Linked DNA regions of Homo sapiens. The protein of the gene in region 2 purifies or fractionates together with the protein of the main gene of each other region. This does not show direct contact. Each region holds a gene or a part of one and is shown on either strand. Other genes may lie near its edges. The genes, in order: CNTNAP3, MAN1A1, SLC2A12, GAS6, PLOD2, ITGA7 and CHSY3.

Region 1 (4,328 bases), on a different chromosome or scaffold from region 2:
GGCTCACTGCAACCTCAGCCTCCTGGGTTCAAGCAATTCTCCTGCCTCAGTCTCCTGAGTAGCTGGGACTATAGGCAGGCACCACCGTGCCCAGCTAATTTTTGTATTTTTGGTAGAGGTGGGGTTTTCCCATGTTGACCAGGCTGGTCTTCAACTCCTGGCCTCAAGTGATCTGCCTGCCTCGGGTTCCCAAAGTGCTGGGATTACAGGTGTGAACTGCCACACCCAGCCAGTAATCATTTTTAAGAGAAAATAAAACAATGAAGCATGAAGCACGTAATAATCCATTAAAATGTCATGCCTTCCCTAGAGTACAGAACAGCAGAGCCAGAGCTTTAAACCAAACTCATCACATTGTTTACTGAATTCCAAAAATATTTGACCAGACATATTGTTTTTTATGTACCCAAAGCTTAATTTATGACTGTCAAAATTTACATTCAGTGTTTATAGAATTAGATGAGACTTTGAGCCGTTTGTAAATAAAATTACTGAAACCTCAAAAACAAATACTATTTGGTATTCTAGCTATAGGTACATAGCTATGGGTAGTCCAGCTATGGGTACATATCTCTACTATTTAGGACTTAACAAGGTTGAATTGTGAACTCTGAGGATAAATATGTTAAAATCCGTTCTGTTTTCCTCCAGGATACAGATTTATTCTGCCCCCACCCCAACTCACAGTCCCGTTTTTCTGCATCGCCGTCATTATCTCCTTCCATCCTGAGCGTGCCTTCATGTTTTCCTGTGTCTGCACAAGACTCAATTTTCTGTGAATTTGCTTGAGCAATATTCATATCTAATATTTCTAGCTCCCACAGAAGTGACCTTTTCCTTCGATGTGGGGAATGGACCTTGTGAGGTCACGGTGCAGTCACCCACTCCCTTTAATGACAATCAGTGGCACCACGTGAGGGCAGAGAGAAATGTTAAAGGAGCGTCTCTTCAAGTTGATCAGCTTCCTCAGAAGATGCAGCCTGCCCCTGCTGATGGGCACGTTCGTTTACAGCTCAACAGCCAGCTCTTCATTGGTGAGTGCTGGTGGTTTATAACTGAATTTAGTGTGAGTCCAGAGAGGGACCAAAAGAAAATAAGAACTGTGATGTACTGAGAGCAACAGTTGCCAACAACAACTACTGCTTATTGGTACTATTTGCTGATAACCTGGTAGGTTCCAGGAGCTTGCTGTGTGCTTCTTATTTGACATTTCTTTTTTTGTTTGTTTGTTTTTGTTTTTGTTTTTGTTTTCAGACAGAGTCTCACTGTGTCGCCCAGGCTGGAGTGCAGTGGTGCAATCTCAGCCCACTGAAACCTCCACCTGCCGGGTTCAAGCGATTCTCCTGCCTCAGCCTCCTGAGTAGCTGGGATTACAGGCGCAGGTGCCACCACGCCTGGCTAATTTTTGTATTTTTCATAGAGACACGGTTTTACCATGTTGGCCAGGATGGTCGTGATCTCTTGACCTGATGATCCACCCACCTCAGCCTCTCAAAGTGCTGGGATTACAGGCGCGAGCCACCGGGCCCTGCAGTATCTCAGTGTTTAGGTATCAATGTTTAGGTATTGTCATCTGTTTACAGATGAGATAGCCAAGCCTCAGAGAAGTGGAGTAACCAGCTAATGAGAGGGATCCCAGGATAGCCGACCCCCAAACTTGAACCATTCACATTGCAGAGGATTGGCATATGTGACAGCTATATTTTATCAACACTATTAGTGAGATCATTAGACATTTTTATCCATTCCTTCAGTTTCACTTCTCGGTGGAGTTAGAGAGCTTGTAATTGGGACAGAAGTCCTCCAGGGTCCACTCAAAACCAGATCGCAGGATACCCGCTGATTGGAAGCAGCACTGCGCACCTCCCCCGCGGCCAGGCTTCCAGGAGCCCACTCCCGGTTTTCCTCGCTGCTGTTCTCACTTCTGGGGCTCTCTCATCACAGGCTCCTTGTTTATAACCTGGTCTGGCTCATCTGTTCTTGCACTCCATTTATTTAAAGGTGATAGCTCTGGAAGTCTTTCCTTTAGTTTGCTTACTTACTGTTTTATCACTGTTGTTTATTTTTCCATATTGCTTTTGAAACTATTCTAACTTAGGAGCTACACAGATTAAAGCTCTCACTTGTTCATTTCTTAAGTGTTTTAAAGTGAATAAGGATGCAATCTAATTAAAACTGGACTAAATCACAAATTATCATCCAACCTAATTTACAGGGAAGGGTAGATACAACTTCCAGGTACTAAATGCTACACGTGAACCCACGTATGTATGTGGATGTGGATGGGGTGTTATACCATGACTTCCTAAAACCTAGCTTCAGGCGTGGTTAGCTCTTCTATTAAGGTGCAGTGAGGCTTTTTCAAAGGACATGAAACCATCAAACTACTGGAAAGGAGGACTACACGGAGGGGTCAAACCAAGAACTTGATTTTCTCACTTGTAATCTTGGAGATTATTTAAGGGAATGCCTAGAAACACAATTAGCGTAAAATTCACCTAGAATCAGCATTCATTGCGGTGGATGAATCACTGGCTTCAGAATCACCCACAAAGCTGATTGATAGTTCAGATTTGGGGCCCCCACCTTAGGCCCACCGAATTGGAATCTCTGGGAGGAGGCTAAAAACTGCATTTTCCAGAAACTCTAGGTAATTTCCATGCTCCTAACATTGAGAATTGTCGCCTTCATAATGGTGTTTGTCACTACACAGGTGTTGTAAACCTCTCTAAATGGTTTCTTCAGCATTCAAGTTTGACATGACAAAATGTGCATGCATGCAGTATTCAATTACTGTTTAGCACTGTACCCTCTGAGAGGAGGAGATCCTGGGGTACGGTGTCACCCCTTCCAACTTCCCCTCCTTTGCCTCTCCATTTCCTTTCACACTTTATTTTTAGAGTCCATCCAAGTAAGAAATTATCCATATATATTTTTATTATTGTGAAAAATTTGGAAGTTCATACCTAACCATTATAATGCACATTCTTATTCATAAAGAAATTAAAATAATGTTTGATGAATACACATTCTTATTCCTAAACAAAGTAGAATAGTGTTTGATGTGGTTTATATTATGTATTTTGTTCTTTGTGAAGGAACTAAAGTGAAATTCTTTCTTACCTGAAGTTAAGGAAATGTTTTAGGACTATTTGCCAGACTCACCATGTTTGAAAGTTATGTAAATAAGTGTTTTATTCAATGTCATTTAAAGCTTCATGTCTCATAACAGTTACATTTTCAAAATTGTGTATGTTCACAAAATTTTTTGACACATTGTGATTATTGCCACTCTCCATAAGGCCTGAGTTTGACATGGACATAAAATCCTGAATAAAATACCAAGGAACACATTTCTATTTGCAGTGTTTCCGTTGTAGGTGGAACGGCCACCAGACAGAGAGGCTTTCTAGGATGCATTCGGTCTCTGCAGTTGAACGGGGTGGCCCTGGATCTGGAAGAAAGAGCCACAGTGACGCCAGGAGTGGAGCCAGGGTGTGCAGGACACTGCAGCACCTATGGACACTTGTGTCGCAATGGAGGGAGATGCAGAGAGAAACGCAGGGGGGTCACCTGTGACTGTGCCTTCTCAGCCTATGATGGGCCGTTCTGCTCCAATGGTAAGTGTGACCAAGGAGCAGGTTATAGGGAAAGTACATGAAACTTAAATAACATGAAGAATGCTTCTGGCATTTGATATTATAAAGAGAGGATAAGATTGAATTATTTGAAATGGAATAATTTCTGTACCAAATTCCTCTATTGAATTTAGAAGGGATATGACTGTTTTTGAAAACTTAAGGCTATCAGTCCTCTCTGGGTTTCTTATTTAGAAGATCTCTGGGTTACCCCTAGCATCTGTTCAATGCTAATCCTCTTGAAATAATTTGGTTTTCAAAACTCTGTCCTTGTACTGTTCTAATTTTAACATCAGTAAACCATCATTGTTATTTTTGTTTTTAATTTTTAGAGACAACGTATTGCTATTCAAGCCTCTCTGTTGCCCAGGCTGGACTTGAACTCCTAGGCTTGAGCAATCGTCTTACCCATTGTCCCTTGTGACAATGACTTGAAGTGATTCAAAAGGCCTTTATAGAAATGTCTTTTCTTATAAAACAAGCATACTAACTAGAAGGGGAAAATAATATTTAAATATTGACAGTCATTAACAGGATCACTCAAACACTGTGCTCTATGATGTTTGACTCTTCTTAGAGGAGTGCAGTGGGGTATCACACAGCTTCTGCTCAGGTACAATCATGTTTTCAAAAGAAAAGGGCTGGGCGTGGTGGCTCATGCCTGTAATCCCAGCACTTTGGGAGGCCAAG
Region 2 (4,328 bases):
TTGTGTTTCAAATTCCTATTTTATAAGAAGGGAGTGGGATTCATGATCTGTTTCATGGGGGATGTGGAGAAGATTAATAATGGTTAATAAAATGCTAAGTTTCTCTTTGCAGGGAGATAGAGACCCTTGCCCAATGTTATTGGCAAAAGCAGAAGTCAGTAAATTAGGCTGGCTTTAACTCTTTATGGCCTGGATTTTTGTTTCTTGGTAAACTAAAGGTAGATATTTTTAGGAAGAAAAGCATTGCCTTTTAAAATAAAATATACATTCCTTTGAGACATTAATCACGATCATCAAGCTTCATAGGCAGAGCGGATAGTCTTTTGAGGGCAGCAATGACAAAACTGCATTAAATCAAAGCATGTGGGAATAGACCATAAATGAAGAATAACATGTACTCACATGTTCGATTATATGATTCATGACAAGTACGGGCAATTTCAGCCCCGAGTTCAAGGTAGTGTTGGGCCATGCCTTCGGGAGCTGCATCAGCCCCGAGTGCGAACATGCCCCCCGCGAAGCAGGTCAGGTGGCCCATCTTGTGCTCCAGGAGGCCCCCTTTCCACTCTGCGATATAAGTTAGTCCGCTGCTAGACTTGCGGATCAAATGAGTCTCGATAGCCTGTGAAAAACACTTATTTTTTAACATTTTGTAATCTCTTCTCAAATTTATACTAAAAATATGCCCAACATTAAAAAAAAAAGAATAGAATACACCTGACAATCAGAGTTTGGTGTTAAAAATCCATTCAACCTGAAATTACATGCTATTGCTTTCTGTATTCCTCCTCTAGTTTATGCCTTATTTGTTTGATTAGTCAGAATTAACACTGCTGCGCCAGCACATTTGGTTTTGCTTGGTTCTGTGACCAAACATTGTATTCCTCATATTCAAAAAACTTTCTCCTTCCCAAAGACAGGCCACTGTGCAGCAGTAATAGTTGGTTTGGTACATTTTCATTTCCATAAGTGGTGAAATAACACAGCCCAGGCCCTAAGGTGGATGAAGAACACAGCATATTTGTGCATGAGATCCAGGATGGTGGCAGAACTCTTCCTTTCACTTCTGTAGGCTTGGAGGGATAACAAAATAGAGTGGCAAAGAGGAGGTGTTCTGGGGCCAGAAGACTTGGCTTCAAATTCCAGCTCTGACACTATCTCTAATTTGTGGGAGTGAACAATTTGCTTACTATATCTCTAAATCTCAGCATCCTAATCCATAAATGGGAACAACAGGATCTCCTGATACGACTCTGCCACATTTTGTTTATAAAGCAGTCACTAATGCAAGTGGCACTTGATAAGAGTCATTTATAATTATCATTTACATCTCCAAAGTGGTGACGCTTGAATCAAGTTCCTCTCTAATACTTCTATTAAAAAGCACACTATTATATAATGAATAAATGTATATATTTTAAAAATCAGAAAAATCTTTAAATTTGGGAGAAATGATAATGTTTACAAAAATGATTTATAAAACATCTTTTATTTCTATCCCAGGTCTGTTGATATTCTCTTAAACTAGACAGGTAAGTAAAATATGCCTTATATTTTAAAAAGCAAAAATAAAGTGTGTTTGGCATTGCTAATCTCCAATTACTCTAACAGAAAATGTTCTCCCCACTGCCCCACAATTACTTCATGGAAGGAAAAAGGACATGACTGTGTCTATACCTGTACACTGCTATCAAGAGAGAGGGATTTGTTAGGAAGCACATTTGGGAATAATAGACACAGAAAAAAACTTGTGATAGAGAAGAATGAATGAAAATGAACACACAGGAAGCTAAAACCTTTCCTACCTTTATTAGAAATAAACGAATGAAACCAAGATGGTAAGAAATAAATGAACATATTACTGTGCTCATTAACCGTGGTTAAGCTAATGTTATTGATGGTTTAGTTATTACATTAATATTTCATTCTTATTTTATGCGACTGAACATCTTAGCTATTTATACTTCTCATAACACAAATTGCAATAAAGTCCTTCAAGCAGATACTTGTTCATCACCTAAGAAATTATTCTTTCTACATGGCAAGAGTAGTAGCTTTTGAGGATGAATTAGAGAAACATTATTACCCTGTTATGGATCCTAAATAAAGTATTTCTGGCATGATTCGGACCAAGTTGCTACCTCCTAATAAAAACTACAATGAAATTCCAAGACCTTCAAAGCAATAATTTTGTGTGGCCATGGGAAATATAAATAAATACAAAGAAGGATAGTCTTTAGTAGATCTGAAAAAACTGTGTCAAGGATACAGATAATTGATTAGAAAAAAGAGTACTATATATTTTGTGATTTAATCCTTGTATAATTGATTTAAAAAACTGGTTTGATGAAGCCTTCAGAATCGTAAGTGTCTGATATGTCTTCTGCCCAGGTATCATTTGCCATTGTGAGTTCCTAGTGTAGTCTCCAGATAGGGCCATGATAGCCAGTTGAAAGCTCAAAATATTTTGTTATTAAAATAATCAAATAAAACATATCACTCTGGGATTAAATGCTTCCCAAAATCTACTTGAAGCTACAACAGAGTAGCCATATCTTCAGTAATCAATTGTCCAGAACAATAGTGTACAGCATCCTCCCCTTGGTTACAATAATCTTCTAAAGTACAACTTAGCAGAAATAAACTTTGCTGTATAAGACAATGCTACTTCTCAAAACAGAAATTTAGTTGTTCTAGCTTTGCTTTCTAAGTTGAAAATATACAGTGGATTGAAAATTAGCTTTTACTACTAAGAGAAGCAGGAAACACTTTGACTTCATTTGTTCTTAATGGATTTTCCTGTCAATGATTTGTCTGAATACAATATACTAAAAGTTGTGTGGGTATGGTTTTAGGAATTAGGAAGAAAATATTTCAAATAATATTTTAAAGCTGTCTTTTTTTGAACATCAAGATCTTAGACGGCCAATTTAAGATTAGAATAATTAAAATGTCTGCCAGTATGGTAATTAGAGGATGACAGAATGGAAACTATAAAATATGGAGAACTCCCCAGGTTAAAATCTGAAACCTCACAGCAATGAGGAAAAATAAACCTAAAAGAGGCCATGTGGATCATATCCTAGTTTGCTTTTGATGTTAATCATGTGCCTTTATAAAGGCTGTGCCAAATGTAGGCCAACGTTCTCACTAAGGCGCTTCTGGTTCCTACATGTGAAGTAGTGAAGACTTGTAAAGGAAACCAATGTCATACTCAGTGTAGTTAACCAGAACAAAGCAAGCTGCATTTATATTTAAATAAAAAAGTACGCCTATGTCAAAATAACCCAGACCTCTTGTTAGAAAGACCAATTTTATAATGGCTACATCTTTGGGATTACAAATTTCCATTTTTTTCCTATGAATTAACACTTTATTAAAAAATTTCTAAGCTGTCAAGAAAAATAAAATTTTTCTGAGGACTGAGCCACTATTTTACAACACTACTTGAGAAGCCTTGATAATAATATTAAAAGAATATATGTATTACCACATAAAATACTTAATCGCAAAAGCACCTGATTCCACTAAAAAATTTTGTTCCTGAAGAGTACAAATATTTTAGATAAAGTAATTTTCTTTCTAACTTTATTTACTTTCTAACTTTATTTTCGGTTTTGATTGAGGCTTAACTGGAGGTGTTTCTTAGTTTACTTTTATACTAGCCTCCTCCTAGAGACTTTAAGTAGTTTCTAACTTACCTTACTAACTTACTGCTTGCAAATTAGTAAATGAAGATTTAAGTGTAGAATGGAAATTCTTACAAATAAATCCACAGTGGATGAGTTAAAAGGAACAGGTGCTGATATAGACAAACTTTAATCTTAATTTTGGTTCGACATGTAATCTCTCTGAGGTACAGCAACTTTATCTGTAAAACTGGGTAATAATCTCAAGTACTGTGAGAGAGAAAAAAACCCAACTCCACCGCTTCATTTAAAGGAGCTACCTAACACACAGCTTAGCACATGGTAGGCAATTCAACACTCAACTGTTGCCTCTTACTTCTCCACTGTAAAGAATCTTTGATACTATTAATGATCTTCCCTGAAATATGAGTTTGTTCAGATTTTTATGTGTGGATTTCCTTAGAGTACTGTCCATTTATCTCTGGGGACAAGTTTACTTCACATGGAGGTAGCCATTGGGACTGTCTGTCTTCTCAGGCAATTTTAACTTAGGCAATTGTCAGAATACAAATTCAGGATTTCCCCCTGCATAATTTAAATTGTGGTCCTAAGGAGAGAATTCATATTTATCAAAGAATACTACTTTTTCAGATATGTGACTCTTAACTGAGGTTTAAACCATGCAAAAACTTTAACGGC
Region 3 (4,328 bases), about 15 Mb from region 2:
GACAAAAAAGCATGAATTCCAGAGACTACTAGGGATAATGCCACGTTTGTCACTTAAGTGCTCTGTGACCTTGGCAAGTAACTCTTCTAAGCCTCAGTTTCCTCTTTGATAAAAGAGGTTTCGTAATAGTTCCCACCTTGTAGGGGTTTGTGAGGATCAAATGAGATGAGGTTGTAAAAATGTTTGTAAAAGCCCACAGTAAGAACTTCTGGCTGTTTTTTATTAGGCAAACTGGGCTTGATAGGCTGTGAGCAGAAGACAAGTTAATTTGCTCCTTTATTGCCCCATCTGATCCCATCAGGCAAGCCCCATAATGTTCCCTGTCACTCTCAGATAATAAAAAGTCCTCTGATGAGTTTTGGTGCCAATAAGACTCTCCTTCTAGAAATTCAAATGTTTAGTCTGGTACAATAATCAAATCTTGGAGCTCTATTTAATTTAGAACTTCTCTCCATCCAGCTTGCTTCAGGCCAGGACGCCCAAGTCAGAGAAGGGAGAGTAGCCGGCTTCCTCATGCCCACCTGGCTCCATTTCCTACCCACTCATTAGCTGTGATTTCTGACTCCTCCAAGGTCAGGGGGAGAGAGCTGAGGAAACAGCCCAGTCCTACAGCAGGTACACCTGGGCTCTGGCACTGAGGCTTCTGTGCTTGGCAGATGTCCAGAGCTGGCTCTCTTGTTGCTGCCAGGCAGGTGGCCCCACCTCTGCCCCTGCGGTTTGCATTTCTTGGGCCTGTGACAGATACCAGCACCTCATGCCCCTCACCCTATGCATGGGGACCATGGCCCAGCTCTCCTAATGTTTCTGTGAATCCTTTCTTCCTTGGCTGGAGGTGAGGAGGCAGCACGTCCCTTTACTGTCCTGTTCTGCTGAGGTAGGAAATGGTGCTTCCCAACCACAAATCCCGGCAGGATGAGGGCAGGGAGAGATCAGGGTGCTGGCACTCAGATTCAATGGGTTTTTGCTAAATGTGCTGTCCGCCACCCACTCTTGCCTTTCTTCTAGTGCCCTGGCTGGTGCTCAGCGAGATCTTTCCTGGTGGGATCAGAGGACGAGCCATGGCTTTAACTTCTAGCATGAACTGGGGCATCAATCTCCTCATCTCGCTGACATTTTTGACTGTAACTGGTAAGAAGTCTTTGTTTTCCTCTAATGTCTTTGGTCCTCGTAGGACAAATGTTAGGGAATCACACCCACCTAAAGACCATTTTTTCGTGGAAATTTTCAAACACACTTAGAAGGAGAACGGCCATGACCCTGAAGTACCCATGACCCAATTTACAGTTTTGAATGTAAATCTATTTATAACCCCACCTGCTCTTCCCCTACCCAATTATTTTGAGTCACATCCCATATGCAATGTTGTTTTTTCTGAAAAATTTCAGCATAGACCTTTGACATTCAAAAACATATAACTACAATGTCATTATCACACTTAAAAATATAATCATCCCATAGTATCAAACACCTAGTCTGTGTTCATGTTTTAATTGTCTTATAATTGCTTTTTATACATGATTTGAATCATGACCCAAATACATAACTTACAAGTCACTGAAATATGTCATAATTTGTAGGTTTTGTCTCCATCTCCTCCATCTCCTCACCCCCACTATACCTTATATTTTTAAAGAAATTAAAAATCTATTAAAAAACAAATGATTTATTTCATAGAATTTTCCAGTCTGAATTTTGTTGATTATAGTCATGTCACGTGCCCCTCTCTGTTTCTCTGTTTTTTTTTTTGTTTTTTTTTTTTTTTTCCGATAGTCTCTCTCTGTTGCCCAGGCTGGAGTGCAGTGGCATGAGGCATGATCTCGGCTCACTGTAACCTCCGGCCCCTGGGTTGAAATGATTCTCTTGCCTCAGCCTCTGGAGCAGCTGGGATTACAGGCACACAGCATCACACCCAGCTAATTTTTGTATTTTTAGTAGAGACAGGGATTTCACCATGTTGGCCAGACTGGTCTTAAACTCCTGACCGCAAGTGATCCACCCACCTCAGCTTCCCAAAGTGCTGGGATTACAGGCACGAGCCACCACGCCTAGCCCTCCTCTCTGTCTTTTATGTTTCTTGTAAATTGCTATTAGATTTAGATAGAGGCTTGAGGAGAAAGAGAAACCAATCCACAATAACAAAAGTCATGTTTAGGTGTCAGGCAGAATTGCTTGTAATAATAACAAACTTTTATTTTCAAAAGGGATCTCATCAAATTTAAGGATAGAGAGCAGCAGAAGGGAGATTCTTTTTTTTTTTTTTTTTTTTTTTTTTTTTTTTTTAAGACAGAGTCTCACTCTCTTGCCCAGGCTGGAGTGCAGTGGTGTGATCTCGGCTCACCACAACCTCCATCTCCCAGGTTCAAGTGATTCTCTTGCCTCAGCCTCCCAAGTAGCTGGGACTACAGGTGCGCACCACCAAGCCTGGCTAATTTTTTTGTATTTTTAGTAGAGATGGGGTTTCACTTTGTTGACTCAGGCTGGTCTCGAACTCCTGACCTCGTGATCCACCTGCCTCAGCCTCCCGAAGTGCTGGGATTACAGGCGTAAGCCACTGTGCCTGGCAGGGAGATTCTGTAATAAGGTCAGGCTCATTGTTACTTTCCACTGAAGCCTGAAATTCAACTGCATTGTATAGAAAATTTGAGGATCCCTATGTCGGAAATAAGGCAAGGCATAAAAAAATGTTACAAGCAAAACAAAAAATGGCTGTTTGTGTGTTCCATTCAGCAGCCCTATCTAAAGGAACCACAAATTAGATTTATATATTATAATAAAATAACCCAATATTAGGGATCAAATCAGAAACAGAAGCATTCGCCTTGTTTTCCTAGCTCCAACTTGTAAACATGAAGAAAGTAAGAAGGGAAACCCTTTGGGGATTACAAAGAATGATAGAGCTAAAATAAATAAATAAAGCCTAAATTTATTTTTTTAAAAACGATAGAGGCTTGAGGAGATTTACATGTCATTTTTTGGTGAACTCTGTGGCAGCTGCTGCCGTGTGAACTGCCAACAGGAGGCACATGAGGTCTGGTTGTCTCGCTGTTTGTCATTGTTGGCCTCCTTTGATGATCATTTCCCAGACCTACTCATTATGTCATTCCTTCTCCATTTTTATCTGAAATACCTCTCTAAAGAGAAATTTCTTCTCATTAGCTATTTGGCTATCCTGAAGTGTGGATCATATAAGAAAGGTAAAATACGTGCTTGAAACTTTCTCTTTATTTTCTAGTTTTCAAAATAATGTGGCAGTTCCCCAGTATCCACGAAAACTGACCAATGAGTCGGTTTCTCTTTATTTCATATATAGATGAGGAACATGCAGCATGACTACAATCAAGAAAATCCAGACTGTGGGAAGTTCTATGAAACAAATAACCTAATTTCTTCATTTCATATATATTGTCTTTATAGATACAATTTTCAAAAATGGATGTTTGCTGAAAAGCATGCATATATATAAACACATATATACACATATACACACACATACATACATATATATTTAGTATATCCACTTTTGGAAATTAACCTTTGGGGTTACTATTTAAGCGTGGTTTGGGTTTTTATATAAAATTTTCAAATGTTCCTATCCTACCTTTTGAGAAGTAGCTCAAGATTAAAGGAAACAAAGAAACTGGTCCTACTCAGATCACACACATAAACACATGCCCTCAACCTTCACATGTGCACACACGTACTCAACACACACACACCCTCCATCTGCTATTTGATGTGGAGAAAGAGAAATATAAAAGAAAAAATGGAATTGATGAGGGATGGAAAAGATGACACACATCTCTGGGAGGGCTATAGCTAATACACTGGAGGAGCTAGTGAAGCTTTAGAAGTTCCGTATGGGCTTTTAGAACAAATGTAGGAAAACAGATCCACTTAAAAACAAAAAGCCTAGAATGCTCTAAAACCTTTAGATGACATTTAATTGGAATGCTTGACATTTCCTACTTATTTTCAAAAATAAATTTTCCAAGTGTAGGACACAGGGATCTAAAAGACGTGAGGTTCTACTTGGCAGTAAGCCCTTAAACACCAACATTTTTTATGCAATTTCAGCTGTATCAATAAAAGCAGACTGTTCCAGATAGACAAATGTACTCTGCAGTGATCATGACACAATTGTAGCATTGCATTCAGCTCTGAGTAAAACATCTCGAGAGGGCCATTTAAAAATTGCAGTGTGTTCGCTGAAGGAGGGCAACCTGAATGGCGAGGGCAGTAACCTATGCTGTGGGAAGAATGGTTGAAGAGCTCAGGATGTTTGACTTGGACAAGGGGATTCTCAGAGGAGGGCTGAGGTGCATTCAAAT
Region 4 (3,842 bases), on a different chromosome or scaffold from region 2:
CCAGCCCTGCGGTGGCGGCCTCCCAGCCCGGTGGGCACTCACGCTGGCACCACAGCCCAGCAGCCCAGGGGTCGGCTGTTGCTACATAACAGCAGCTGTTTATTCCAGATGCTGAGATTGGGTCTGGCCCTGGTAACGAGCATTTGCATGAACCAAGCCTGTCTGTCGTATCCCAGCAAGCGGGAGGGCTCTGTGGCCCCGGGGTGGGCAGACTTGGAGAACGTGAGCCTCTCTGGTTTGACCCATGTCTCCCTCCTTAGCACACGAGCGAGAGAATAAAAGCTGTTTCTGTCACCTCTTGATTGTTCTGTGGGGAAAACAGCATGAGTCCCCCAGCCCAGGACAGCTGACTTATTGTGAGGACCGGGGGTGGGGGGACCTTGTCCAAGGGGCAGCTGCACTCAGCTCCACCCGGTGTCCCCCACGGAAAGACGCTGTTGGGGGACCGGCCAAGGTCACAGATCCGACTTTTCCAGGGAAATTGGAAAACTGAGTTTGTTGCTGAAATCATCTGACTTAAACACCAGAGACTAATTCAGATTGCTGTGAGCCACCATCTGCCCAACCGAACAGGGGAAAAGCTCCCACACTGTGAGCCGAGTGTGGCTCGCAGGCGCCGGCCCCCTCAGCTGTGTGGCGGTGACCTGGTGTCCAAACAACCCCCGCAGCCCGAAGCGTGGCCCACGCCGGGCTTGGCTCATCAGACCTCTGGTCAGAGGCTTTGGGGGTCCCTGGGGATCCCACCGCGGGCCCCCTTCGTCCCCTGCCAGGGAGTGCAGCCCACGTACCCGTGGGTCGAGCCGGTCAGGACGCCCTGGGTGGCGGAGGCCCTACCTGCTTCTTGAGTTTCTTCGTGGAGTGATAGTCTACCAGTGCCACAGAGAGAGGCACGGCACGGAGGTCGGGGGCCCAGAGCGCAAACAGCACGCCTGTGTCTGCGGCTGGGCGGATGTGAGCCACGACTTCTACTTCCCAGGTTGATTCAGTCCCGACGTCCAGAGGGGTCCGCACTGCAATGAAAGCGGTGCATTATAGGGTGGTATGCACGGTGGAGAGGCCACAGTGAGGTCGGAGCAGGGCCTCGAGAGATGCAGTCCCAGCCGGGGTGGGAAGCTGTGCAGACAGCCCCGGATCTGGGACGTGATGGAAAACTCAACAGACTGGTTCAGATCTTGGCCCGGAGCCCAGAGGCACCGGGGACCCCCAGGCTGTTTCTCCCTGGCCACACCAGTACCCCACTTCCAAATGCCCTGTAGGTGACCACCAGGCCACACAGGCCCGTCTGAGGGGCCACAGGCTGTGCACCATGGGACGCAGGCCTGTCCCTGCCTCCCTCCGATGTCCTCTTGTTTCAGGAGCGCCTGACAGCTCCTTCCTCAGAGCGTGCGTGGCCTCGTGCCTCGCATCTCACCTGCAGCTTTCAGGTAGCAGCACAGGGCCCAGTGGGGGCTGAGAGTTTAAGATAGCATGCGGACAGGAGCTGTCATGAGCACGGTGGTCTGGGGTCTGAGCTGTCAGGAGCACGCGCGGTCTGGGGTCTGAGCTGTCAGGAGCACCCGCGGTCTGAGTTCTGAGCTGTCAGGAGCACCGTGGTCTGGGGTCTGAGCTGTCGGGAGCACGCGTGGTCTGGGGTCTGAGCTGTCAGGAGCACCCGCGGTCTGGGGTCTGAGCTGTCGGGAGCACGCGCGGTCTGGGGTCTGAGCTGTCAGGAGCACCCGCGGTCTGGGGTCTGAGCTGTCGGGAGCACGCGCGGTCTGGGGTCTGAGCTGTCAGGAGCACCCGCGGTCTGGGGTCTGAGCTGTCGGGAGCACCTGCGGTCTGGGGTCTGAGCTGTCAGGAGCACGCGCGGTCTGGGGTCTGAGCTGTCAGGAGCACATGCGGTCTGGGGTCTGAGCTGTCGGGAACATGTGTGGTCTCCCAGGGAGAATGCCACGGCATATCCTCTCCACGCTGAGCCCTCCGTGGACTAAGAAGCCAGAAGAAAAAACTTCCGCCCTGTTTTCAGTGTTTCTATCTCACCCAGAATTCCAAAGTCCTGATAAAGAAGCTGTTTTAGGAAAAAGGACCCCAAATCACTGTGTGTACACATTTGTGACTGGGCGCCTCGCACTGCAGGCCAAGGTTGGGGTCAGAGTGAATTGTGCTGGTTTCCCTGTCTCTTTCCCACGGGGCTGTGTACGCCTGAAACCCACATCGCCTGTCCTGCCTGTCCCTAGCTGGTACCCGCCACATCAGTTCTCAACAACCATTTATGGCACCGAAACACACAAAATCAGAAAAAGTAACAAAAATATTGCAACAGAATCAAAAAGTAACAACAAAAAGTCTCCTGTTTGCCGGTCTTCCCATAACCTGTGAAGGGAGAGATGATGGTGTTCTTTAAAATGGAAGCTCCCAGTCGGGCGTGGTGGCTCACGCCTGTAATCCTAGCAATTTGGGAGGCTGAGGTGGGTGGATCACCTAAGGTCGGGAGTTCGAGACCAACCTGACCAACATGGAGAAACCCCATCTCTACTAAAAATGCAAAATTAGCTGGGTGTGGTGGTGCATGCCTGTAATCCCATCTACTCGGGAGGCTGAGGCAGGAGAATCGCTTGAACCTGGGAGGCGGAGGTTGTGGTATGAACCTGGGAGGTGGAGCCAAGATCGTGCCATTGTACTCCAGTGTGGGCAACAAAGGCGAAACTCCGTCTCAAAAAAAAAAAAAAAAAAAAAAAAGGAAGCTCCTGACAGGAGGCTAGGCACATGTTGGCCATCGGGGCTTCACAAGGGCACCGGCCTCTGCTCTCCCCGGGAAGGTTTCCCGGCTCCACGTGGCCCCTTGCATGGAGGCTGCACAGACCCGGAGATCTGCAAGCCTGAGCCCAGCAGAGTCGCTGCAGAGTGAGCCAGGCCAGTACTACCATTCCCAGCAAGTCTCCTCTGTCTTGTAAGAGACGTTACTGGTATAGTTTGAGATTCACTGGAAATGCATGGAGCTGTAACTGCTTCTGTCCGGATAGACCAAAAAGGGCCGGCAGACGCGGCCGGCAGTCACTGGAAATGGCCCCTGTGATGCCTGCATAAGGTTACCCCTGAGAAATGTGTATGATATTAAGTGGAAAAAGGATTTAAGCATTTCATATGACATGATTTCGTGTCAAACATTATGATGCTCTAGATTTGGAAGTCCAAAAATCAAGACTGAGGGAGAACGCGTGTGCACAGTCAGTCCAGCCAGTGGCAGATGGCGCTTTTCTCAGATGCCTTTCCTGACACGGTCACGCTTTTGACACCCGGGGGGAGACGGTGACACTGGATCTGGCTCAGGACGGGGCAGGACCCTCCCCTTTGCTCCGCGTGGATCCCCTTGAACCTGGGGTTCCTGCTGGGTGCTTGAGGGCCGGCAGCCCTGAGATCTGACGGAGGGGGCGCTGCCTGCCCTCTGTGCGTGTGGGGGCTTCACCATAAACGGCTCGGTGTCCAGGAATAGGGCAGGGCTGTGGTGCCCCAGTGGGGCCCACGTGGGGTGGGAATGTGAGGCAGGGTGGGGCCGAGCAGTAACACTATCCTCACAGCAGCACCCCCGGAGCCTGCACTGGGGAGGGCGGCAGCGTGGCGTCACAGGACTGGGCCAGCAGCTCACATCCACCCTGTCCTCCCTTTTTCAGGCCTAGGTTCACTGTCCCCCAGGCAGCTTCACGGCTGTTTTTACACACCTCCCATTGTAGCTGTCTCACCGGGTCATCGGTGACCACGGTGTCCACCATGTTACCGAGAGCTTCTCTGTGCCCCTGGACGAGTCCTAAGGCTGTGCTGTCTCCGGACTTTCTGCAAAGGACCCTGTAAGGCTCCCAGCCTCC
Region 5 (3,450 bases), on a different chromosome or scaffold from region 2:
AGAATTTCTAAGAAATTAATAAAGTCACAGTTTGCTCAATGATTTGAAAGGTGATCTAAAATGAAATGTGAATACTAATGCCCTAAAATAAAATCTTAGGGGATTTTTTTTTTTACTTTAACTTGAAGAAAAATCAGTATTGATGCACAGGAAAAATGCTATAGGTAAAAGTTCTTAAATCTTATGGATGATTATTCAATTTCTTGCCACATTTTAGAATCAGAAAGCTAATTAATATTAGAGGGAATAATGAGATAATATAGAAATCTGATCCATATATACTATATAAACATGAAATTTATTAAAATTTTGAAGATACCTTTGTTTCCTCCACATAAAAAATGTTTGAGTTACATATAAACAGATATGCAAAACCAGTGACATAAATTATGGTATAAATATTCAGCCCCTAAAATCTAGCCTCAAAAGATGTATTTAAGGCAAATATCTTTTAAAACATCTTTTGATTGGAATTATTTTGAGTCTGTGTCTCACTTCCTCCCTGCTGGCTCTCTGTATTTGCACTTTGTAAAGAGAAAATTAATAATTTCTAGAAATATTCTAAATTTCAGAAGATATCTTTTTGGATATTTATATTACTCCATGTATTAATAATATTTTAGTAAATATCCATATTTGAATAAAGAACTTGTCCCAATAAAATAATTCTTTAGCTTTTGTTGAAAAAAGTTGAGATATCTTTGTGTGTGGATTTTATGCCAGAGATTGGTCAAAAAGAATCAAATTCATGGATTAGAATAAAGAGAAACCATTTTTTAATATAGAGCCCTAACCCTTAATTTTAGTAACTGAAAGAAGTGCAAGTGCTAGTAAACTCATGATTATTCCTTGATAAATATTAATAACTGAAGTGAAGGCAGAAATTTTAAAAACTCATTTAAAAAATCAAATTTAGAGTAATTTACTATAGACATATAAGACAGACCCTAGTTAATTAGTTCACTAATTCATTTTTACAAATACTTGTTGGTAGAATTTTGCTCCTTGTCTTTTACCTTTAAGCACACCTTTATTTACCTACTCTGTGTATATATTAAAATACTGATGGTCCCCAACTTACGGTGGCTTTACTTAGGAATTTTCAGCTTTATGTTGGATTTATCGGGGTACTGTGTGTTTTTAACCTCCCACGGGTTTATTGGGACATAACCCCATCGTGAGTCAAGGAGCATCTGTAAAATGTGTAAATCTATTCACTGTAAGATTACTTAAGTTTTAAAATCCTGAGGTACAATATTTCATAAATAAAAATTTTGTATTTCATAGAATGACATAAGCATATTCAGAACCAGGCAAAGATTAGGCTATATACTGTGATTTCTGAAAATTACTATTTTGTCCACTATACATAATCATTTATAAGTTGAATAATTTCTAAAATGCATATGCTTTATACTTTTCAGTGAAGTATTTATAAAGATATTTGTTTTAATATGTACTTCTTTTTATAGGACTGGAAGGAAAAGTATATAAACCGTGATTATTCAAAGATTTTCACTGAAAATATAGTTGAACAGGTTTGTATTAATGATTACAAAGTATAGAAAATTTTGCTGTTATTTTCCAGAAGAAATATTATTAATACTACTTTCACAGAAGATGTGAAAGTGGAGAAACTACCTTTTAGGTAAAATTTATTTGATTCAATTACTGATTAAATAGCATTAAGGAACATACAGTTGTAAAATGTAGAACATAGAAATTAACATTTTAAAAGCATGCCTTTTTAAAAAGCATGCTCCTATGTGTCATAGCTTTCTGAAACCACTAAAAATAGAAACTGTTGACAGATCTCTGATGTAGAACTCTTGCAGTGAAAGCTTATCTTTGGAAGAAACTGGGCTGTCTTTCTGGAAGAGTCTTTTCTCAGAGACATCTTTGAAACATGAATTCTCTTTTAGCTTAGTGTTCAAAACTATTGTTAATACCTAATTTTTGAGAATGTAAGATGTCATCAATTCTGAGGTGCACCATTATTTATGTACCATGAGAAAAAAAATACTGTCAATAAACCATGACAGAAAACTATGTTTCCTAGTCATACAGGATTTTTTATTTTACACATATTAAAATAACTATTTTAGACTATTAAGACACAGAAGTTATTATGTCTTCTAACGATGATGCATATTTTATAGCCCTGTCCAGATGTCTTTTGGTTCCCCATATTTTCTGAAAAAGCCTGTGATGAATTGGTAGAAGAAATGGAACATTACGGCAAATGGTCTGGGGGAAAACATCATGTAAGTTGTAATTTCACACTAAGAACTAAAATGTATGTGGGGGTTAAGTAGATACTCAGAGAATTCGGAGGGGTTATATACTTTTTCTCATATGTCTCTGAGTTCTAGACTTAGATAAATTGGCTAGCCAAGGCTCTGATTTCAGTCTACTTCTCCCACCAACCAATTTTTTTAACACTTAAGTAATTTCATTAGTTTGGGCGGGTTTCTCATTTATGCATGTAATTACACTGGATGTTCCCTAAGGGTCGATGTCCTCAGGCCAGAGTTTGTTAGGTAACACATGTCTTTACAGAGTGATGTCACTCTTTTCCAAGGCCACTTTTTATTCCTTGCGTTTTCACAGTGAGCTGTGGTGAAAATTCTAAGGCAAATGTTATCTGGCTCTGAAAACTGTTTTTGTGTGTAAAGATAGGAAGGAGGGATCTGAGTGCCTTAGGTGTAATTCAGTTTTGCATTTGCATTCAGTGTCAAAGACTTGGCAGGAAATACTACTGCCAGTGGTTAGATGTGTTTCTTTCCCTCTGAGAACAGACATGCCATTTTAGCAGAATACTCTGGAATATTACTGCCTCTGCACGGTTATGTCCCCCAGGTAATGAGCTGATAAGGGAGAGGGAAGCTTAAAGTATAAGGAAGAACTTAAGTTAGTGGGTGATGAAATAATGAAAAGCAATCATTCAAAAACTTTTGAGTGTTACAAATAGAAGTGAGGAAGGGCGGGGAAAGCTTGTTTTTAGTGTTTGGTAATACAGACAGCAGATATGCTAAGTGTATGCTCATCAAGCAGCTGAGACTGCCTAAAGGGTCACTGTAAAAAAAGACTCATTTTTAAGAAAGGATGTGAGGGCTTAGGAAGTCAATTTTATTTACTTTATAGCTAAACTTCACATATACATTTAAGAAGTAGGAAAGGAGTCTACTGACCTTACATTACTTTGTTTCGTCATTGTATCATTGACAAAGCTGTTACCTAAGTTATTTTGATAATTTTACAGTTAAAGCAGATGATATACCACATTGGAACAACTGTTATTTTTATTGTCTATTATGATCTGTGGTTGAAAAAAAATACTATAATATAAATGGGAATTGCACGTGGAGTACAGCTTATTATGTCATTAATGTTGTTTCTAGGATAGCCGTATATCTGGTGGTTATGAAAATGTCCCAACTGATGATATCC
Region 6 (4,180 bases), on a different chromosome or scaffold from region 2:
TGAGTGGGCAGGGGCAAGTATGGGCATCAGGCACAGGCACCTCCCAAGGGGTCAGATGAGGTCAATATGACTACCCCCACCTCACCCTTCCGGCCCCGCCTGGCTTACGTGGCCAACAGCAGCTCTACCTCCAGTTCCGTGGTCTCAATGCTGATCCCGGAGGTGCTAAGGATGAGGTAGAAGGTGACCTAGGCCAAGGGTGGAAAGAGATTAGAGTCAGGGGTGGTCTACGGGCTTATGGAGAGGCTACTCACGTAGGGATAAGGGCAGATGTGCCAACCTGGGCACCTCTCTTCATGGGGTTCCCCAGCTCACACTCAACATGGGAGGCATTCTCATTGGACAGGCAGAGTGGCTTCTCCTGGAATGGGAGAGAAGGCAAGGTCAGTCTGGGTTACTGGAGCCCCTCAAGACCCCACCCCATCCTGCCCCCAGGTCCTCACCGCAGGGTCCAGGGCCCGGACCCCTGAGTAGTGCAGTGAGTCAGGAAGCATGACCAGGAGCTGGGCTTCATGGGCATCATCCCCATCAGCCTGGGGCTGGGCTGGGTCCGATGGCAGGTTGGTGACCATCAGCTCCAGGCCAATGACTGGCTGCCCACTCAGTGCAAACAGGGCTGTTGTTCCATCCACATCCCTGGAGAGTCAGACCCCACTCCTGCTAAGTTCTGAACACCTCCCCCTACCATTCCCCCGCCCAGTCTGCTCCCCCAGTACCTGCCTTCACTCCCTGAGCCTCTCTTCCCACCCCAGGTCCCCATCACACCCGTCCAAGCCTCAGGCCTCTGTACACACGACTGGGAGTCAGGGGACCTCCGTTCTCATCTCAGCTCCACCATTACTTACCTTGGCCAAGTAACTTAACCTCTCTAGGCTTCAGTTCTCCATCTATAAAATGAGACTAATATAATTCCTACCTCACAGAGGTTTGAAGACTAACCAATGAGATGTATGTAGACTGCATATTATTAGTGTACTGTGAAGGATTGCTATTCCTTGCCATGGGAGCCCCCGTGGCCCCATCACTGACCCTCATCTCAGTCTCCAAGTCCATCGGCAGGTCCTCTTCCACCTTCTGCCTTTTCTGCAGGCTCAGCCCTTCCCTCTGACTGGTCCTCCTGAGAGGGCTTTCTCTCAATCCTTGAACTCTTGCCCTCCCACCCCCACCCTGCTCTCTGCCCCCCTCACATGGGCAGAGGTTGGAATTCCGTGTCGCTGACCCGGGTACAGAAGCGGGCGCGGACCAGCTGCAGATTGCTCTGGCAGATCTTGTCTTCACCACAGCCTTGCTTCAGGAAGTGGATCTGGGGAGAGACATGAGATAAGGGGCATTCCTAGGGGGCAAGGCAGGGGGCAAACCTGTCACCATGGCATATGGTGGGTTAGAGTATCACAGGATTAAACAACCTGTCCTCAACTCTCAGATCTGCTGCTTATTAGCCATGTGATCCTGAACTGGGTCCTCTCCTCTGGGTCCTCTCATCATGGTAGTGATGGGAGCACTACCATGCCATGGTAGAGACTAGCAGCAAGTCAAGAGCTGGGCCACACTGCCCCAGCTCACATGCATGTAACTGAGTTCCGGATTTAGAACGGGAAAAGATGTCAAGGGCACCACTTCTGGGCCAGCCATAAAAACCATGCAAGCAAGGGGCCTCATGTTCTCCCTTCCAGCTGAATGGGATGAATGTGACTTCAAGAGCTTGAAGGCCGCATTTGAAGATTACAGAATCCCATCAACCTGAGCCCCCTGAATGACTACATGGAGTAGAGGAGCTCTGTCCCCTTGACTAGGAACATGGTCATTTAGGCACCTAGAGATATGAGGAATTACTGGAGTAGCATACGTGAAAGGGCTCTGTGAGCTGTGAATTGGTGTCACTGGGGAGGGACCATGATCTTTGCCCTCCCAGCTCCTCCCCCTGGGCTAAACCAGAACCCATGCTCACCTCTGCCCGCTGGGTGCTGGGCTGGTGGGCATTGAGGATGGGGGCCACTGGAGGCAGCCCCTGGCCAGGAGCCTGTCGCCGGAGCCGAGGGGTCTGGAGACTGTAGGACAAGGTCACTACAATGGCCCGAAGCTTGTCTTTGACATTTTCCTAGGAAGAGGAAGGTCTATTCCTCACTGGAACAATCCCCAGGCCTCAGCCCTGCTCAGTGCCCCAGCCAGACCTAGGACCAATTCTAAAACTTGGAAAGAATATTAGGGAGATGAATGAGAGAGGTGGAGAACTGAGCAAGGAGGAGGGAGAAAGACTGGGGTAGGGGACAGGGGAAACCTTTAGGGCTTTGAGGACCAGATGTGATGATAAAAGCTGCCACCTCCTCCATTCAGCTGGAAGAGGGGACATGAAGCCCCTTGCACCTCCTCCTCCTCCAGGGAGTGCAGAAATGACAGGAGAGGGCAGCAGATGAGGAGGAAGTGAGCTCAGAAGACAGGTTTCCCACGTGTCTAGGTCTTAGAAGGAGGCACGAGTGTGCTCGGGAAAAAGCAGCTAAGAGGAATCAGGGAAAAGAGATGGAGCCATGAAAATGACCCTCAGAAGCCAAGGGGTCAGTGTCCACCTGGAGCTGGAACATGGCGTCTCCACAGACTCGGTCATGCTGGTGCTTCAGCCACACGGTGCCCGAGGCCTGGTGCTTGGGTTCTTCCAGGTTACGGCTCAGGAACGTCACACGGGGAACCTGGCCCCGGAGCCTCCGGTCTGTGTCCGCATCTAACACATAGTCCAGGGCTGTGGCATGTTGGGAAAGGAGGAGCTGCTGAGCTGCAGAGCTGCTCCAGCTCACCCCATTCCAAGGGTGCTCTTCTACCACCTCGAAGTGACCCCCCTCCCTGGGAAACCCAAAAGGGCGAGCCACAGAGGGGGGACCGCACTCACCCACAGTAGGGCTATAGCTGCTGGGGACTGCAATGTAGCTGAAACAGACCCTTAGGTCCACACTGCGGGGGCAAAGGTGGCTCCTGAGCCAAACGAGGCTGATGGGCCAAGGCCCCTACCCCCACCCCATCTGTCACATCCTGTCACAGCCCCAGCCCCAAACTGGGGAGATAAAGGATCAAAGGGAGGGCAGGGGAAGCTGCCAGGGTCCAGGTGCCACCCGATCCCACCTCACCAGACCGAGTGGCCGCCAGCACAGTTGGGCTGCTCCAGGTCGATGCTTCGTGGAGCAATAGAGACCTCATGGGAGACATGGAGGATGGGTCTGGCCCTGGGATTGGGGAGTCAAGAGCACAAGAAACATGAGAACATGAGGCTGGGAAACACTCTTCAGCATTAGATTTGGCACTGAGGTCGGGGTCAGAGTCACAGGGAGGGGCTGACGGCCTCAGGGAGGGAAAAGGTTGAGAGGGGCTCACCTGAAGAGCACTGCGGTGTCAGCCAGGGAGCCCACCAGCAGGTCAGGGTATTGGTTCCCATCCATATCCAAGCTGCCTGACAGGGAGTAGCCGAAGCTCTTGATGCCCACAGCCTCGCCCTCCAGCACCTAGAGAACCAGCTGTCAGCCTCCCTCAATCCCACCTCCCGCAGGCCTCTGCCTCCCCTGATGCCTCTGCTGATTCCACCCACACCCATTCCCTCATCCCAGCGACTCCCCTCACCTGTGAAGGTTTGGCGACAACCCCCAGGCTGCTCCCATGGTAGATGAAGACTTTCCCATCACCATCAAAGGGGGCACCCACTGCAATATCTGCAGGGCACAGGGAAAAGGCAGTCACGCTGGCTGGGGGCCTTGCAGACAAGATCCAGGCCTCAACTCCCCCCAGTCACTCAGGTATGTTTTCTATTTTATTGAGAGGCTACAAAATCCCAGGCACTCTACATACATCATCTTTAATCCTCTTGGCCACTCCCTGCAGATATTACTAACGCAAAAAGGTTAGGAACTTGCCAAGGTCAGAAAGCTGGTAAATGGTACAGCTCAGACATAAGCTCAGGGACCCTCTCTCCCTGAGTCCTCAGAAGACCACACCCTGACCTCTGAGGGGCTTCCCCATCCCTCCTGTGGCCCCTCCCTCCCTGAGCCTTTCCAGTTCCCCGTCACACCTGGAAAGCCATCTTGGTTGAGGTCCCCCAGGACAGCCAGGCTGATCCCGAACATGGAGTCAGGGGAGCCGCAGAGCCGGAGAGGGGAGATCCCAGCCCAGTGACCCCCCTGGTTCAAGTACACATACACAG
Region 7 (4,163 bases), on a different chromosome or scaffold from region 2:
CTAAAGATGCCATTAATTATTTTCTAATGAATTTGACAGTATTAGGATTACAAGTTATAGTCAAGGATACTGCCATCCTGTTTGTCCTAATATTAAGCAATGATATTTGTTAAGGATCCCAAAATGTCTTCAGTAAAAGAGGCTGTCAACATGTAAGGAATACATCACCAAGGCAAATGATATGTGGCCTCATGGCATTCAGTTAAAAATAATGGCAACAATTTACAACAATCACTTTCAAATCAATTTTGATGCAAATTATTTTTCCATTAAGTAGAAACAGAACATCAAAGTGCACAACAATATGTATAATATGCTGCATTTTGTGTATAGAGGGTTAAAAAAGTAAAATGTGTGCTTCAGAAACTCTAGAAAGACATGCACAAAACACTCACACAGCCCAAACAATGGTCATGTGTAGTCAGGTGACAGATATGGGTGGATGGGGAGTGAGGCCAACAGCTTTAGGCATTTAAAAATTTTGTTTGATTTTGGAACCATGCAAATGTATTACCTATTTACAAAATAAGATTTTATAATATGCCTTAATGACACTCCATTGGATGGATGTTCATTTTCTCTTACACTTCTTTAATCCAATTATGCTTTTCTAGAAACTGGACACCACTGATCCAGGTCAAAGAAAGAATGATATGTAAAACTAAATGAGATATTTCCTGACGTATTTTTAATAATTATAAAATTGATGTCATATTAATAATTTCTCCAGTGACTTTTGAGATACCTACCAACCCATATTAAAGGCAATTTTTGAACTGTTCTTGGGTCAGCTTGATCCCAAAGCTGAAGAGATTGAGGAAGGATGTTTCTCCCAGATGGTAAATTATTGAGTAAAGAAATTGCTCAGTTTAATCACTTATGAAGGCTAGGTTTTCCAGTATAATAAAACAAACAGCATACCATAATCCCTTGTTAACTTTTCAAGCTGCTCAGCAAGCATGTTTTGGTGAATATGAACAGAAACATATCAAGTGTGAATAAAAGGAAACAACAAAACCTTGTCAGTGTTTTTGAAAAAGAATACTGCTATACCTGTGTTTTATTTTAAATAAACAGGTTCTGTCATATTTTATCTTCTTGCCAGCAAATGAAGGACATTGTTTCATAAAGCTTCTAAAATGTACATGAATATTTAATTAAATCATATTTCCTTGAGAAAATAAAGTTCATTCGCATTTATAGCAGACAGTTGTGAGGAGCTCATAATTGTCATAAGACCAGGGTAGCCAGTACCGGTTGCTTGTGGAACAAAACTCCTCAATTTTTAAAACTTTTTTTAAAAAATAAACATACAATCATAGGTATTCATTTACTTTAAAAATTCTAAAGATGAAGAAAATTATTGTTTATATATTTAAGTCCTTGTATAAATTACAAAACTCAAGTTTATGTTACAGAGTCCCTTCCCCATAGGAAGCATAAAGCACTTTTGTGGTACCTTTCACCAGTAAATATTTGTATCACATTGAATTTGAGAAACCAAATAAAAGTCGATATTGCATCTTTAAGCCCCAAGAGAACATTCTTCTAAGCTGTCTCTTGTGATGAATGCGTTTCAAAAGTCATTTGATTGCTATGATTTAACTCAATCTCAAATAAAGTTATATAAAAGTAATAACATATTGACTTCAGTAGAAATCTGAAACATCAGTGAACTGCAGACTCTTCTTGCTTGAGGTCAACAAACACCCTTAGGAAGACAACCAAGAGTAGTTTAAGACCAGGACAACAAAATAAAATTATAACAATAATAATAATAAAATAACAATAATACAATAAAAATAACAACAACCAACAATGAGGTAAACTCCCCTTAAAAAAGGCAAAATGTGTTGCCTGGACTGTCAGGAGAGAGTTCGATTGTACCTGACACCTAAATGTTTTTCAAGCCAGAGTTCAGCCAGTTGCATGGTTGAGGCGAAAGTACTTGCCTTGGATCCTAAGCACATCTTATACTGCTTAGGGTCCAAGTTAGGATCACAATGAACTGGATGGAAAATATGCACCACTCCTACTTCTTGGCTTCTGAATGGCCTTAAGCCAGATAGAATGACTTTATTGTAGAGATCTACATCTTCTAGTCCCCAGCCTTGTATTGAGGTATCAAATCCACCTGCACCTAGAAGATCACTTTTGTAAATACAGGTGATGCCATATCCATAGTCTCTCCAAAATCCAGTCTTTTTTGAGAATATGAAGTAATCATCAGTGGGAGGATTTCCCCCGTTTGTTACCTTTGGGTCATACTGGCTAAAGATGATGGGATAGTACACCTGTTGTCCCTGAATTGTATTGTCTCTACATCGTTGGAGAAAATCTTCTCTGAAGATCAAGTCAACATCACAAAATAGCAGCAAAGTGTCATTGTCAAACTGGGCAGAAGCCATTTCAAGACCAAGACCTCTGGAAAACTCTCCCTTCATTGGGATCAGGGTCATTTCTGCTTTGGGGTACTTGTTCTGGTACCCTTTTATCAGCTCAATATGCTTGCTGGAGTCTTGGCCAGAATCCCTACTGAAAAGGATAATGACCAACTTTACATTCTGCTTTGGGATAAGACACATGTTTTCAAAGTTCTCCATGAATCTCAAGAAAATGTCATACCTTCCGATGAGAGGAACGAGAATGTGTACTTTCTTTTCATTGTGCCCTCCCATTTCTTTGGCACCTTGAAAAGAAGATAATATCTTTAAAGAATTAGATATAAAGGAGAATGACTGAGTTTCACTGTTAATACTCTCCACAAGACTGTTGACATCTAGCTCTTCGGTCTCTCTGAAGAAAGGCTTGCTGAACAACTGCTGAAGATAGGCATGACGTCTCACTGGCACAGTCAGTTTCCTTCCCTTGTGTCTTTTGTATAAAAGGAGTAAATCCAAAATGTACTCCACCCCGTGCATGGGGTTAACTCTGCGGTAGCCATACTGAATTTCCTTGAAGTCAATGAGCCGTCCTCTGCTCTTGGCATTCTCATTGATCATCTCCATCACCTGTAGGACGGTATCATCCAGTGCTGTTCTTAAAATGCTACTGAGGCTCTGTCGAGGGGGCTGGTTCTCAGCTGCTGAGTATAGAAGCTTCCCTGTCAGGAACTCCCATTCTATCACTTCATTTCTCTCCCGAGGCTGGAAGTGGTTGAAAGAAGGTATCACTCCCAGCTGCTGGTCCTCTTTGCTCACTTCTGTGTTACTGAGCTTGCTCATCAGGGCACTTTCCCTGTGGAGCTGGATGGTGCGGTAGCGAAGTTCAGAAATTTTGCGGCTGAGCATGTAATTATGCAGCCTGTATTGGTATGCAGGCCTTTTGTTGGGATGAAGTGTTATGGCTGCATGGATTTTGCTATTGTGAAGGTCTTGGATGTAACCCTTCCGATTGTGTTCATAATTTTCATGGAACAGTTGTTGCATCTGAAAAGTAAAATTAAAAAAATCAGGGTTAATTTTAAAAGATTTATCTAAAAAGAAAACCAGCGATAAACTAAAGCATCTAAATGAAAATGTTAATACATTTTTGGTATGGTATTTCATAACAAAAATGGTTTGTAATATTTATATTATTTAAAATTAAAATAGTTTTATTATTTGTAATTGGTAGATGAAATTCCATGTACTTATCATGTACCACATGTTTTGAAGTATATATATATAATATATAGAGAATATACATATAGTGGGATGAGTAAATCTAGCTAATTGATGTATTCATTACCTCACATAGTTATTATTGTGGTGAGAACATTTATCATCTTTTTTTAGCATTTTAAAGTATATAATATAGTTATTAACTATAGTCATCATGTATTCAATAGATCACTTGAATTTATTCCTCCTATCTAACTGAAATGTGGTATCATTTGACAAAAATCTCCCCAACCCCTCTCTCCAGCTGGCTTAGCCCCTGGTAACCAACATTCCACACTCTAGTCCTATGAAATCAACTTTTTGATTTCTATATATGAGTGAGAGCACAAATGTCAGGTTCATAGGCTCAAATATTGCAAATGAACCTCTAGCTATACATAAAACAACAATTGACTGTGTCCATAACCCCATAACAGATCACGGAGAAGGAGAGAGACAGAATGGACACAGCATGAGTCTTCCAAAATAAGGATTCACCCTAAGGAGGAAAACCAATGACCT

Evidence for each region.
Region 1: the proteins of MAN1A1 (region 2) and CNTNAP3 purify together in Homo sapiens (affinity purification with mass spectrometry; one large-scale study listed by BioGRID and IntAct). This does not show direct contact.
Region 3: the proteins of MAN1A1 (region 2) and SLC2A12 purify together in Homo sapiens (co-immunoprecipitation; one large-scale study listed by IntAct). This does not show direct contact.
Region 4: the proteins of MAN1A1 (region 2) and GAS6 purify together in Homo sapiens (affinity purification with mass spectrometry; one large-scale study listed by BioGRID and IntAct). This does not show direct contact.
Region 5: the proteins of MAN1A1 (region 2) and PLOD2 purify together in Homo sapiens (affinity purification with mass spectrometry; one large-scale study listed by BioGRID and IntAct). This does not show direct contact.
Region 6: the proteins of MAN1A1 (region 2) and ITGA7 purify together in Homo sapiens (affinity purification with mass spectrometry; one large-scale study listed by BioGRID and IntAct). This does not show direct contact.
Region 7: the proteins of MAN1A1 (region 2) and CHSY3 purify together in Homo sapiens (affinity purification with mass spectrometry; one large-scale study listed by BioGRID and IntAct). This does not show direct contact.

What each region holds. Positions count from the first base shown.
Region 1 is NC_000009.12:39,099,203-39,103,530, reverse strand, and holds part of CNTNAP3 (contactin-associated protein-like 3 isoform 1 precursor), read left to right. Parts: intron 1-815; coding exon 816-1,034; intron 1,035-3,380; coding exon 3,381-3,620; intron 3,621-4,328.
Region 2 is NC_000006.12:119,189,262-119,193,589, forward strand, and holds part of MAN1A1 (mannosyl-oligosaccharide 1,2-alpha-mannosidase IA), read right to left. Parts: intron 623-4,328; coding exon 403-622; intron 1-402. UniProt on the Homo sapiens protein: Involved in the maturation of Asn-linked oligosaccharides. Progressively trim alpha-1,2-linked mannose residues from Man(9)GlcNAc(2) to produce Man(5)GlcNAc(2).
Region 3 is NC_000006.12:134,003,612-134,007,939, reverse strand, and holds part of SLC2A12 (solute carrier family 2, facilitated glucose transporter member 12), read left to right. Parts: intron 1-1,005; coding exon 1,006-1,128; intron 1,129-4,328. UniProt on the Homo sapiens protein: Insulin-independent facilitative glucose transporter.
Region 4 is NC_000013.11:113,822,541-113,826,382, forward strand, and holds part of GAS6 (growth arrest-specific protein 6 precursor), read right to left. Parts: intron 1,011-3,842; coding exon 835-1,010; intron 1-834. UniProt on the Homo sapiens protein: Ligand for tyrosine-protein kinase receptors AXL, TYRO3 and MER whose signaling is implicated in cell growth and survival, cell adhesion and cell migration.
Region 5 is NC_000003.12:146,071,375-146,074,824, reverse strand, and holds part of PLOD2 (procollagen-lysine,2-oxoglutarate 5-dioxygenase 2 isoform 1 precursor), read left to right. Parts: intron 1-1,472; coding exon 1,473-1,538; intron 1,539-2,159; coding exon 2,160-2,264; intron 2,265-3,401; coding exon 3,402-3,450. UniProt on the Homo sapiens protein: Forms hydroxylysine residues in -Xaa-Lys-Gly- sequences in collagens. These hydroxylysines serve as sites of attachment for carbohydrate units and are essential for the stability of the intermolecular collagen cross-links.
Region 6 is NC_000012.12:55,694,335-55,698,514, forward strand, and holds part of ITGA7 (integrin alpha-7 isoform 2 precursor), read right to left. Parts: coding exon 4,049-4,180; intron 3,693-4,048; coding exon 3,604-3,692; intron 3,489-3,603; coding exon 3,361-3,488; intron 3,213-3,360; coding exon 3,117-3,212; intron 2,944-3,116; coding exon 2,882-2,943; intron 2,735-2,881; coding exon 2,565-2,734; intron 2,099-2,564; coding exon 1,949-2,098; intron 1,304-1,948; coding exon 1,188-1,303; intron 637-1,187; coding exon 444-636; intron 362-443; coding exon 281-361; intron 189-280; coding exon 109-188; intron 1-108. UniProt on the Homo sapiens protein: Integrin alpha-7/beta-1 is the primary laminin receptor on skeletal myoblasts and adult myofibers.
Region 7 is NC_000005.10:130,183,494-130,187,656, reverse strand, and holds the end of CHSY3 (chondroitin sulfate synthase 3), read right to left. Parts: intron 3,429-4,163; coding exon 1,866-3,428; 3' UTR 1,023-1,865; downstream 1-1,022. UniProt on the Homo sapiens protein: Has both beta-1,3-glucuronic acid and beta-1,4-N-acetylgalactosamine transferase activity. Transfers glucuronic acid (GlcUA) from UDP-GlcUA and N-acetylgalactosamine (GalNAc) from UDP-GalNAc to the non-reducing end of the elongating chondroitin polymer.